2 separate regions of the Homo sapiens genome follow, and region 1 is linked to region 2. Evidence: fine-mapped expression QTL. A gene starts in region 2. The other region holds a variant in brackets. All regions are shown on one strand. Distances are from middle to middle.

Region 1 (5,388 bases), 31 kb after region 2:
GTGTTCATATTCAGTGTCTCTGGTTTTCTTCTTTTTCTCTCTGCTCTAGTCAGGCTTTACACCTTTCACTAAAACTACTGTGTCACAGTCATCAAAGACCTCAGTGTTAAATTCAGTGGTTAGATTTGGTCTTAAACTTGAATTACCAGCAGATTTTGACGTAGTCATCACTCCATCCTCAAAATACATTCTTTGCATGGCTTTTAAGATGCTTTTCTTCCCTGGTTTGCTACCTCACTGGTGGTTCTTGACTGTTATCTCTTTCTGTAAACCAGAACTATACCATAGAAATATAATGTAAGCCACATGTATAGTTCGATTTAGTGTTCTAGTGGCCATGGGTGAAAATAATTTTAATGCTATATTTTATTTAATTCAGTATATCTAAAATATTAATGTTTTGGCTGCATAGTATTGTGTGAAGAGTACAGTTTTTGAATACTTATTTCTGGCAATCAAAGGATGCTGCAACTACTGGACAGAAGTATAATGAGACACCACAGGATATATACCTAGTCTCAAAATATCTTTCCACCAGATACTTATTAATTACAAAGGGAAAAATGATAGCTTTGTGATAGAGAAACTTGGCGGATAGCACCTTAGTCAAGTGGCCAGAATTACCATTAGTAATTGGACAGATTGACACGTGCCGGCTTATACAGTGCTCTAGGAAGGACACATCATCATTTCTGTGGCATTCCTATCAAATATGATATAACTTAAATTTAATCTTGAAGAAATATCAGGCACACCCATTACTGAGGGATATACTACAAAATGTATACTACAAAGTACTATTCAAAATATACTATTTTGAAGTACTGTTTGAAAAGATACTTCCAAGTGTCAGATATGAATGTTAAGGACAGAGGAAATGCTCCAGATTAAAGGAGGTTAGAGACATGAATTTCTGTATTTGGTAATTGTACTGTGATTATGCAAGAGGAAGATTTTGTTTTTAGGAAATCACGCTGAAGTGTTTAGAAGTAAAGGGGCGTCATAGTCTGCAACTTAATCTTGAAGGTTTCATTTTGTCATTATCACAAGTGCTAACCTGTTTGTTAATACTCACAAACTGTCTTCTCACTTGTTAAGATGAAAGCATTCCTGTTATAATCTAAGCTCAGCTCCTCCACTTGTGTTGCATTACTAGGCTCTCCTTCACTACTCGCTTACTCTTATTGGCATGTAAACATGCTTTACATTCATTTGAAAACACCACAGTTTCCTTGATCCCATGGCTCCTTGTATCTACAGTCCCATTTCCCAGCTACTTGCCAGGAAAAATGTCTTTAATGATTTGCTTATGTTACTTTTTCTTTCATTTTATCTTTATTTACTCCAAATGGTCATTCTTTACCACCACTACAGAGAACTGGTCTTTACCCATCTTGCTAAATTCAGTGTTCTCACCCCTCCCTCTCCAACCTGTGAGCATCGTTAGACCCGGTTGACACACTGTGAAATACTTTTTTCTCTTTGTCTTCTTAATACCAGTCTTTTGGATTTCTTTCTGCCTCACTGGTAAGCCTAGTTCCTGTGCTTACGTCTCTAATTGCTAGAGTACTCCTGGACTCCCTCCCTCCTCCATAACTGTTCCCTAGGTTGATTTCCTCTAGTTCTGTGGCATTCAGTATCAACTAACTATACAATGATGAAGTCCAAATTTATACCTCTAGGCTTGAGTCTTTCCCTGACTTCAGTCTCAAGCAAGTGAAATCTGAAATCTCCACTTGGATGATCAAAGAAATTACAAACTTGATATAACCAAAATTATACTTCATTTCTGCCCTTACACCTGCTCCTCCCAAATACTGCCTTATCCCAGGAAATGGTACCATCACCTGCTTAGACCAAAACCCTAAAAATGAGGCTTGATTGTATAGTTTACCTCATATCCACATTCAGTTCATCAGCATATCATGTTAGCTCTACCTTTGAAATATATCCTGATTTTTTTTTTTTTTTTAACCAACTTCTTACTCTCCCCACTGTTGCAATCCCAATCCAAGTCATCATCAGCCCTTGCTTGGACTGTTGGATAGAGTCCAATGTCTGATCTCCCTAGTTTCACTCTGACTTCTGTCCTCAAGTCCACAAATCTTCAAGAGTGATCTTTAATGGTAGCAGTCTGTTTACATGACTCTCTTGTTCTCACTTATCCAATAACTTAGATTAAATTCTTATTACTGAGGTTTATATTCCCAGGACTTGTGATGTTCTTCCAGAAAGTTTTCCTAAGACTCTTCTTGGCAAACTTACAGATAAGTTTTATGGATATTTTTGTTTTGTTGTTTTTCCTCCACAGTGTTTGTCTGATTTTTTAAAAAAGGAAGAGGAAGCTGGATGTGGTGGCTCACACCTGTAATCCCAGCACTTTGGGAGGCTGAGATGGGTGGATCACTTGAGCTTAGGAGTTCGAGACCAGCCTGGACAACATGGCGAGATCTCATCTCTACTAAAAATACAAAAAAATTTAGCCCGGTGTGGTGGTGCATGCCTGTATTCCCAGCTACCTAGGAGGCTGAGGTGGAAGGATTGCTTGAGCCCAGAG[C/G]GGGGTGGAGGTTACAGTGAGCTAAGTTTGCGTCACTACACTCGAGCCTGGATGACAGTGAGACCCTGTCTCAAAAAAAAAAAAAAAAAAAAAAAGGGTCGGGGGGTGGAGATTTTATGTTGAAAAAGAAAAACCTAAATTTTTTTCTGAAAAATTAGGAGACCTGACCACACTGGCCCTGTATTCATTCATAGCCACAACAGGATAAGTAGTGGCTGACTCCTTTTAAATGAAGCATATGTTTTCCAATTTGCCAGTCTCTACCATTCCCTAGTGTATGTTGTAGCTAGCCAGATGTATTTAGGAAGATAACCTGCCTTTTGAGTTCATGACCCCTGCCCTGGAATAAGTCATTCGTTGAACACATATTTATTGAATAGAAGTCTGTTTAGCACTATTCTAAGTCCTATAGGTGAAGTAGTAAATAAAGCCGTGATCTCATGGATTATACCTTTCTTGGGACAGATAGTCAATGTATATGTAATTAAATACACATATAATGTCAGGTGGTGATTAAGTGCCATGAAGAAAAGTAAAGCAGGCTAAGGGGATATAAAATGGTGGATGGTGCTGTCTTAGAATGCATGGGGAAAATCTCTATTTGAGGAATTGACATTAGAACAGAGGCTGGAATATAAGGGATGAAACCTTGTAAATATTTTGAAGAAAATCATTTTGGTGTGGGAGCCGTGAGAGGAGAACGTGTTTGGTATGTTTGAATGACAAGAAAGACCTGTCAGACTGCAGTGCAGTGAATGTGAAGTGGTAGGAAATAAAGTTGGCGAGGGAGACCGGGCCATGTGATGTAGGGCCATAGAGGCCATGGTGGACTTAGGGATTTTGCTATGAGGTAGAAAACTATTGAAAGGTTTTGAATAGGAAATGACATGATGTGACTTATTTTCAGACAATCCTTCTGCCTTCTGGTGGTATATAAATTATAGCAGGGACTAGTGTGGTAGGTGGGGGAGTTGTCTGGAGGTGGTTACAAGAGTGAGCAATAGTGGTGACTTAAACTAGAGAGAGCTGTGAAAGGGTGAAAAGTAGTTAGACTAGAATCTGAAGATAGAGCCTACAGTGTTTTCTGGTAGATTTGATACAGGATGTAGAAAAACGAGAGGAGTAGAGGCCAGGTTTTCAGCCTGAGCAACTCTAGATAGGTAGTAGTGCCATTTAGTGGTATGGTAAACACTAGGAAGTAGGCGTCAAGCTCCTTTTTGGAGATGTAAAATTTGAGAATCCTGTTTGATGTCCAAGTAGAGACAGACTATAAAAGAGAATAAGCTTATATAGCTCTGTAATATGATGAGTGTTTTTTTTTTTTAAGGATTTGATCATGTAAGTCATAAAATACACCTGAGTTCTTTGAGACCAAGGACATTGGGTTTATTTTCTTACTGTTTGTGGGGTATAGTACCTCACTTGAATTTGATGCTCACTGTTTTTTTTTTTAAGAATCCAGAAATTGTGCTGTAGCTCCATCCCCTTTTGAAACTATTGTTCTGTTATTTTAGGATTCTATCTACATTTTTTTTTTGAGGCAGAGTCTCACTCTGTCGCCCAGGCTGGATTGCAGTGGCTCGATCTCTGCTCACTGCAGCCTCCACCTCCTGCGTTCAAGTGATTCTCCTGCCCCAGCCTCCCAAATAGCTGGGATTACAGATACATGCCACCATGCCTGGCTAATTTTTTTGTATTTTTAGTATAGACGGGGTTTCACTATGTTGGCCAGGCTGGTCGTGAACTCCTGACCTCAGGTAATCCACCCGCCTCGGTCTCCCAAAGTGCTGGGATTATAGGCACGAGCCACCATGCCCAGCCCCTAGCTATGTTTTTATAGGAATTATAGTAGGCAGAAACACTCTTTTAATGGGGCATATGACTTGTTAATCAAATCAGCCAGATGACAGTAAATGTATTTTCTTCAAAGGAAGTCCAGCAAATCACTTAATTTGTTAATGACTCAGCAATGAAATCATTTAAAAAATGATTTGGGGAATGGGGGTCCTATGTCTGAATGACTCAGTTTTTTTCCTTCCAATGGACTATAGTGGAACATGGTTTTACTCTCACTTTGAATAATTCTGTTTGAGAAATCTTAACTGTGCAAGCAGTCACTTAATAATTTTTTAAGTAGTCTTATCTAAATCTTGCAGCACGGTCATTTAACAGTAATTATTACATATTTACTGTTCACCTGTGAATGTGAGACTACTTTGTGAGAATTATTACTGTGCGATATTTTCTTAAGCATTACCCTTATATGGCAAGTGAACGTATTAAATTGCCTAAGGACAAGCAATTGAAAGTAAGGACAGAGACAACATTTGAATATGGTGTTTTAAGTGTATGCCTTCAAGAAAAGCTTGTGTGTATCCTAGCAATATTTAGACAAGCAGGATGACCTCCCATTTCTCTTTGTTTATTAAATAGTGATTTTGTAAGAGAAATATAAAGAAAAGTTTTATATTTTGCCGCTATTTAAGGTTTTTTGCTATTCATGAGCCTGATTATTTCCTTTTTGTATAGGAAGATTTTCAGTCAATGACTTATGGATTTAAAATGGCTAACAGTGTGACAGATCTTCGAGTTACAGGTAAAATTATTTTTAAAGTTAATTCACAAGTTTTACATTTTCATATGTTTCCTTTTAAAACTTATTGTTTCTTTTTCTAGGCATGCTAAAAGATGTGGAGGATGACATGCAAAGAAGAGTAAAGGTATATATGTTTTCTGTTTGGTGTGGGGTTTTGGTACACTTCTAAATGTCAGTTTAACTTTACCTAATTAAAAATGTGTAGAACCACCTTTCTCCTGTATGTGCTTTGTAT
Region 2 (5,388 bases):
GACACAGCTTTGATCAAAACAGGCAAAACTTCTGCCTTTGGGAAATTATTCTGTAAGAGAGATATGCATTCTTAATTTTTAAAGTTTTTTGAGACAGTCTTGCTCTGTTGCCCAGGCTGGAGTGCAGTGGCATGATCTCGGCTCACTGCAACCTACACCTCCCAGGTTCAAGCGATTCTCTTGCCTCAGTCTCCTGAGTAGCTGGGAGTACAGGTGCACGCCATCACGCCCGGCTAATTTTTGTATTTTTAGTAGAGATGGGGTTTCGCCAAGTTGACCAGGCTGGTCTTGAACTCCTGACCTCATGTGATCCACCCGTCTCAGCCTCCCAGAGGACTGGGATTACAGGCGTGAGCCACCACGCCCGGCCATTTAAAAATTTTTTAAACCAATTTTTGTGAAGTTCGGTTTACAAACAATAAAATGTACACATTGTAAGTATATACTTCAGTGAAATTTTACAAATGTATTCACCCACACAGGCACTACCTTAATCGAAAACAGAATATTTACATCACTTCAAATCAAGCTCTATCCAACTTAGTCTCTTCTTGAGCCCTGAGCAGCCACTAATCTGTCTTCTGTCACTATAGATGTCTTTTAAGAGCCTGGGGTCTCACTTGGGGAATCATACTCTTGCATTTGATTTCTTACTCTGTCGCCCAGGTTGGAGTGCAATGGCACCATCTCGGGTCACAGCAACCTCTGCCTCCTGAGTTCAAGGGATTCCCCTGTCTCAGCCTCCCAAGTGGCTGGGATTACAGGCGCACGCCACCATGCCTGGCTAATTTTTTTGTATTTTTAGTAGAGACAGGATTTCACCATATTGGTCAGGCTAGTCTCCAACCCGACCTCTCCACTGCCAGCCTCCCAAAGTGTTGGGATTACACGCATGAGCTACCAGCTACCAAGCTCAGCCTGATTTCTTTTACTCAATATATTTTTGAAATTCATTCATGTTGTATGTCAAGTAGTTTATCCCTGTTTATTGATAATTACATTCATTACATTGTATGGATATGCCACAAATTGTTTTTATTCAACAGTTGATGGACATTTGGGTTGTCTGTAGTTTTTGATGATTAAAAACAAAGCTGGGCCAGGCACGGTGGCTCATACCTGTAATCCCAGCACTCTGGGAGGCTGAGGTGGGCAGATCACGAGGTCAGGAGTTTGAGATCAGCCTGACCAACATGGTGAAACCCCATCTCTACTAAAAATACAAAAAACAGCCTGGTGTGGGGGCAGGCGCCTGTAATCCCAGCTACTCGGGAGACTGAGGCACGAGAATTGCTTGAACCTGAAAGGCAGAGGTTGCAATGAGCCGAGATCAGGTCACTGCACTCTAGCAGGGGCGACAAGAGTGACACTCTGTCTCAAACAAAAACAAAAACAAAGCAAAACAAAGCTGGTATGAACATTAACGTACAAGCCTTTGTATGAATATGTTTTTGTTCCTAAGTAAATTCGTAGATTACTGGATCGAATGATAAGTATATGATTATAAGGAGAGATTGTTAAGTTTTCCAAAGTGGTTGTACCATTTTGCATTACCACCACCAACATAACAGAGGTCCAGTTGCTCTGCATCCTTGCCAACATTTGGTATTATCTTTTCCATCTTTTAATTTTGGGCCATCCTAAAGAACAGGTGGTGATAAAGATGTGCTTCTTACCTGCGCCCGTCTATTTATGTAACCCCATTTAAAAACTGATCATTTTATTAATAAATTAAAAAAATCTAAAACATATAAGAATCTGAAATTAAATGTCTGGCTTGACTTTGCAGATATTTTGAATCTATGTTTCCTCACGAAACTCCCAGGCGCTGTATAGGAAACATAAATCCGTTGTCAGGCAGCAGTAGCACGCTGTTGCTCTCGGAGCTTGGCTGCTCGTTCGTGCTCGCAACCACTAAGGTCTACGCAAACCTCCACGGTTTCCTTCCGCCTTCGCGTCACCTTTCTAAGAAATTCCCAGAGGGCAGCGCAGACGGGGCGGGCTCTGAGACTCCGGGCTCCGCCTCTTTCCGGGAACCGCCCACTACCCAGGACTCCGACAGAGGGTGAAAAAAGATAACTTCCGGTCTCGCGATCGTCTCTAATCTCGCGAGAAGAGAAGGCGGCCGCCATCGGCCGAACGGAGGCGGTGGCGAGGGAGGGGGTGTGGCCGGGGAGCGCGAAGTCCCCGGGAGTAAGGGAGAGGGGGCGGGGTCGCGCGTCCCGGGCATACGCATGCGTGCACGCTGCCGGTCGGGCTGGGCTGAGAGGGGAGGGGGCGGCGGCGGCCGAGGCGGCGTCGTTATTTCCGTGGTCCGGACAGTGCGTGGCGGCGCGGGTGACCACGGGAGAAGTAGGTAGGGACCGCCCCTGCGTAGCCATTGAAACCCTCTCGCTCGTGTGTCCGAGAGCCGCAGCCCCCCGCGCGTGTGGCAGATCCTGGGGACCCCAGGTCACCCTGCGGCCCCGGCCCTCCCGCTGCGCGTCAGGTAGGAGCGGCGGGCTCCCCAGTGCCCGCTGTCGGCCGAGGCCCCACTCTTGCCCGGTGTTGCCGAGGCGACGACCCGGCGCCGGACGTGCCCGCCCTCCCGCGCGGCGACAGCTCTGTCCTTGCTTATGCGCCCAGTGGGACCGGGGCTGGGCTGGGCTGACCCGGGCAGGGCGGAAGGGAAGCGTGTGCCCGCCTCAGGTGTGCCTCGGCCCTAGGCCCGGCCGGCGGGACCCTGCGGTGCCTGCCGGCTCCTCATTGCTCCCGGCGAGGTTCTGCCTGGGTCCGGGCCGGCTCTGGCCCGGGAGAGGTCCCAGCGAGCTCTGGCCAGATGAAGGGCTACCTTGATTGACTTCGGTAGCTGCCGCATGGGGTCCTGGGCTGCGAGAGGGGACCCTGAATAGTGCCTTGGTCTTTTGTGGCTATTATTGAAAGTTGGAAGCTCTGGAGTTGTTCTTTTCGGGCCAGAGGTGAGATGGTTTGTGATTTTTCTTCTTAAACAGTAGGAAGGCAAAATGTTTATGGGCCCTGGTAGGTGGTGGGCTAATAGTAAGCAGCAGGAGTGTTAATTGACGTGCGATTTGATTGCATTAAGGTTATTCTTTGCAGTACTGTCCTTAGACTCAGAAGAGTTCTGCTTTAAAGAGTTTAGTTAAGACTTCATCCTATGCTGAAACAAACACCCATTTCTGCAAATACTCTTGCCCTGAAAGCTACATCCTCTCTCTTACATCAGTATTAATTTTACAGGCATAATGGTTATGAAAGCTTCTGTAGATGATGACGATTCAGGATGGGAGCTCAGTATGCCAGAAAAAATGGAGAAAAGCAATACAAACTGGGTGGACATTACCCAAGATTTTGAAGAAGCTTGTCGAGGTGAGTCTGATTTTTGGATTAGAAGTTCAGCATCTGGAAGGGGTAGAATGACGATTGTGCTTTCTAAACTTACCTCATTAGATGAAATCAACAGGTAAATGTGGTTTGTTGAGTTTGTTAGCCACACTTATTCTGTATCCTCTAATTTTAACTTTAAAGCAAATGTATATTTGATACAGCATTAAATACAGATGTTGAGGCAGTATTTTAAAATTGAATTTTTCTTGCTTTAACAGGTTAGAGAGAGCAGTAATTTCTAACTGTGGAAAACACTTTGTTAATCTAAAAGATAATAGTATTTTTGTATGTTTGAGGTTTCAGTATGATCAGATCACATCATTCCTTGTTTAAGATTGTCCAGTGGCTTCCTGTTGCAGGTAGAATAAAATCCACCCTCCTTCCCTATGGGTCTATAAAATCTGGTCCCTGCCTGCCACTCAGGTTTCATTTATGTGCCACTGTCCCCGCCAGGCTTATTACATTCCAGTCACAGGTCTTTTTTATCTCTTCGTAATACACACCAAGGTGGTTCTCCCAGGTGTTTGCATTTTTTGTTTTCTTTCTTTTAAATTGCTTTGCCCCTCGCTTTCACACAATTCTTCTTAAGTGTTAACCTCCCTGGTGAGGACCTCAAAACAACCACTCATTCTCTCCTCTGCAATTCCACCTCAGTTGAATCACTTTTTATTTTCTTCATACAGCTTATCTTTTTCAGAAGCCATAATTGTCAATTATTTCTTGTTTATTTTCAGTCTCACTCACTGGAATATAAGCTCCGTGGGGGCAGAGATAATTTCTGTAACCCTAGTATACAGAACAGTTCCTGGCACATAGTAAATTCAATAAATAGGAGTAAATGATTGGAGAAATGAACATGCTTGTTGCTTGAGGGGAAAGAGTCTAGGGAGAGACTGAAGATAAGAGAAAGGAACAAATTAACTAGAGTGAGAGCTTGAACGTTAAAGAGAGGATGAGATCAAGGAGATAGTAGAGAAATTGGGGAAAAGCACAGGGACACACTGAGACAGGAAGGACTGAAGTTAGGATGAAGATAAAAGTATATTTCTAAGTGACAGAGGAGGACTGGTGAAGGAATTCACTCCTGATGGCTTGTATTGTCTCAAGCAGCTTAGGTCTTTTGATGATAGGTAGGGTGTGTTTGGATAGTGCTCTGAAGGGGAGGAGTAAAGACTTGGGGCACCTGCAGGTGGAAAGGGAGCCAGCTGTGTATAAGCAAAATGATAAATCATGTGCCATCCTTTGTTTTGAAATCACTTTTTATAGCCTCAGTGAGACAGTGGAAAGGACGTAAGACTGGGAGTTGGGTGACTGCCTATGTATGTCTATCTAAGGAAGAGAGAAAGAAATGTCAAGTTACAGTGTAGTTTTTGTGCTCAGAGATCTTAGACTATTAAGTGGATTATACCTGTCATCTTGCACTGATTTTAAGTAATCTCTATTAGGGGGCTGTCATTATTAACCTAAATAGGGAAGGTTTTTGAAGGTTATATGGCTTGGGTTGGGCCTTAAGGAGAGATCAAGTTTTTGCAAAGGGAGGTGATAGAGTTATTCTAGACTGAGATGAACTATGTGAGTCAGAGTTTGGTGAGGTTTTTATGTTAGGGGAACAGTAAATAATTTTACTTGGCCACAAAACAATTTTAAATGCTGGGAATTATAGAGCGTCTTTAGTGCCATTGATGTTTTTTGTTTGTTTTTGTTTTTTTGGTTTGAGCTTGTTTTATAGGCAGTAGGAGTAATGGATTTGAGCATAAGATTGAAAGTTTGTTCCCCTTGATGATCAGTACAGTGGCTTGGACCAAGTAGCTTCTCAGTAAGTAATGTAGTAAGCTTTATAGTCAGATATGAGCTGGAGTCCTAACTCTGTCACTTACTAGTTTAGTTTCCTTGGAGTTTAATTAATCTGAATCTTAGTTTTCTACTCTGGAAAACAGAGCTTCTACTTTAGAGAATTTTGGGGATTAAATGAGATAGTGGATGTAAAGTACTCTATAGTAGCAT

Evidence for each region.
Region 1: its variant is fine-mapped to the expression of NAA35 in whole blood (TOPMed, PIP 0.96).

The regions. Positions count from the first base shown.
Region 1 is chr9:85,969,881-85,975,268 of GRCh38, forward strand. NAA35 (N-alpha-acetyltransferase 35, NatC auxiliary subunit) reads left to right here. Exons shown (of 23, transcript NM_024635.4): 7 at 5,087-5,153; 8 at 5,234-5,277. Among named protein-coding and RNA genes, the nearest start is that of NAA35, 31 kb to the left of the region's middle. The variant C/G (reference allele first, on the strand shown) is at 2,558.
Region 2 is chr9:85,938,918-85,944,305 of GRCh38, forward strand. NAA35 (N-alpha-acetyltransferase 35, NatC auxiliary subunit) reads left to right here and starts at 2,229. Exons shown (of 23, transcript NM_024635.4): 1 at 2,229-2,356; 2 at 3,238-3,366. The coding sequence starts at 3,243. RefSeq lists a silencer at 2,133-2,812.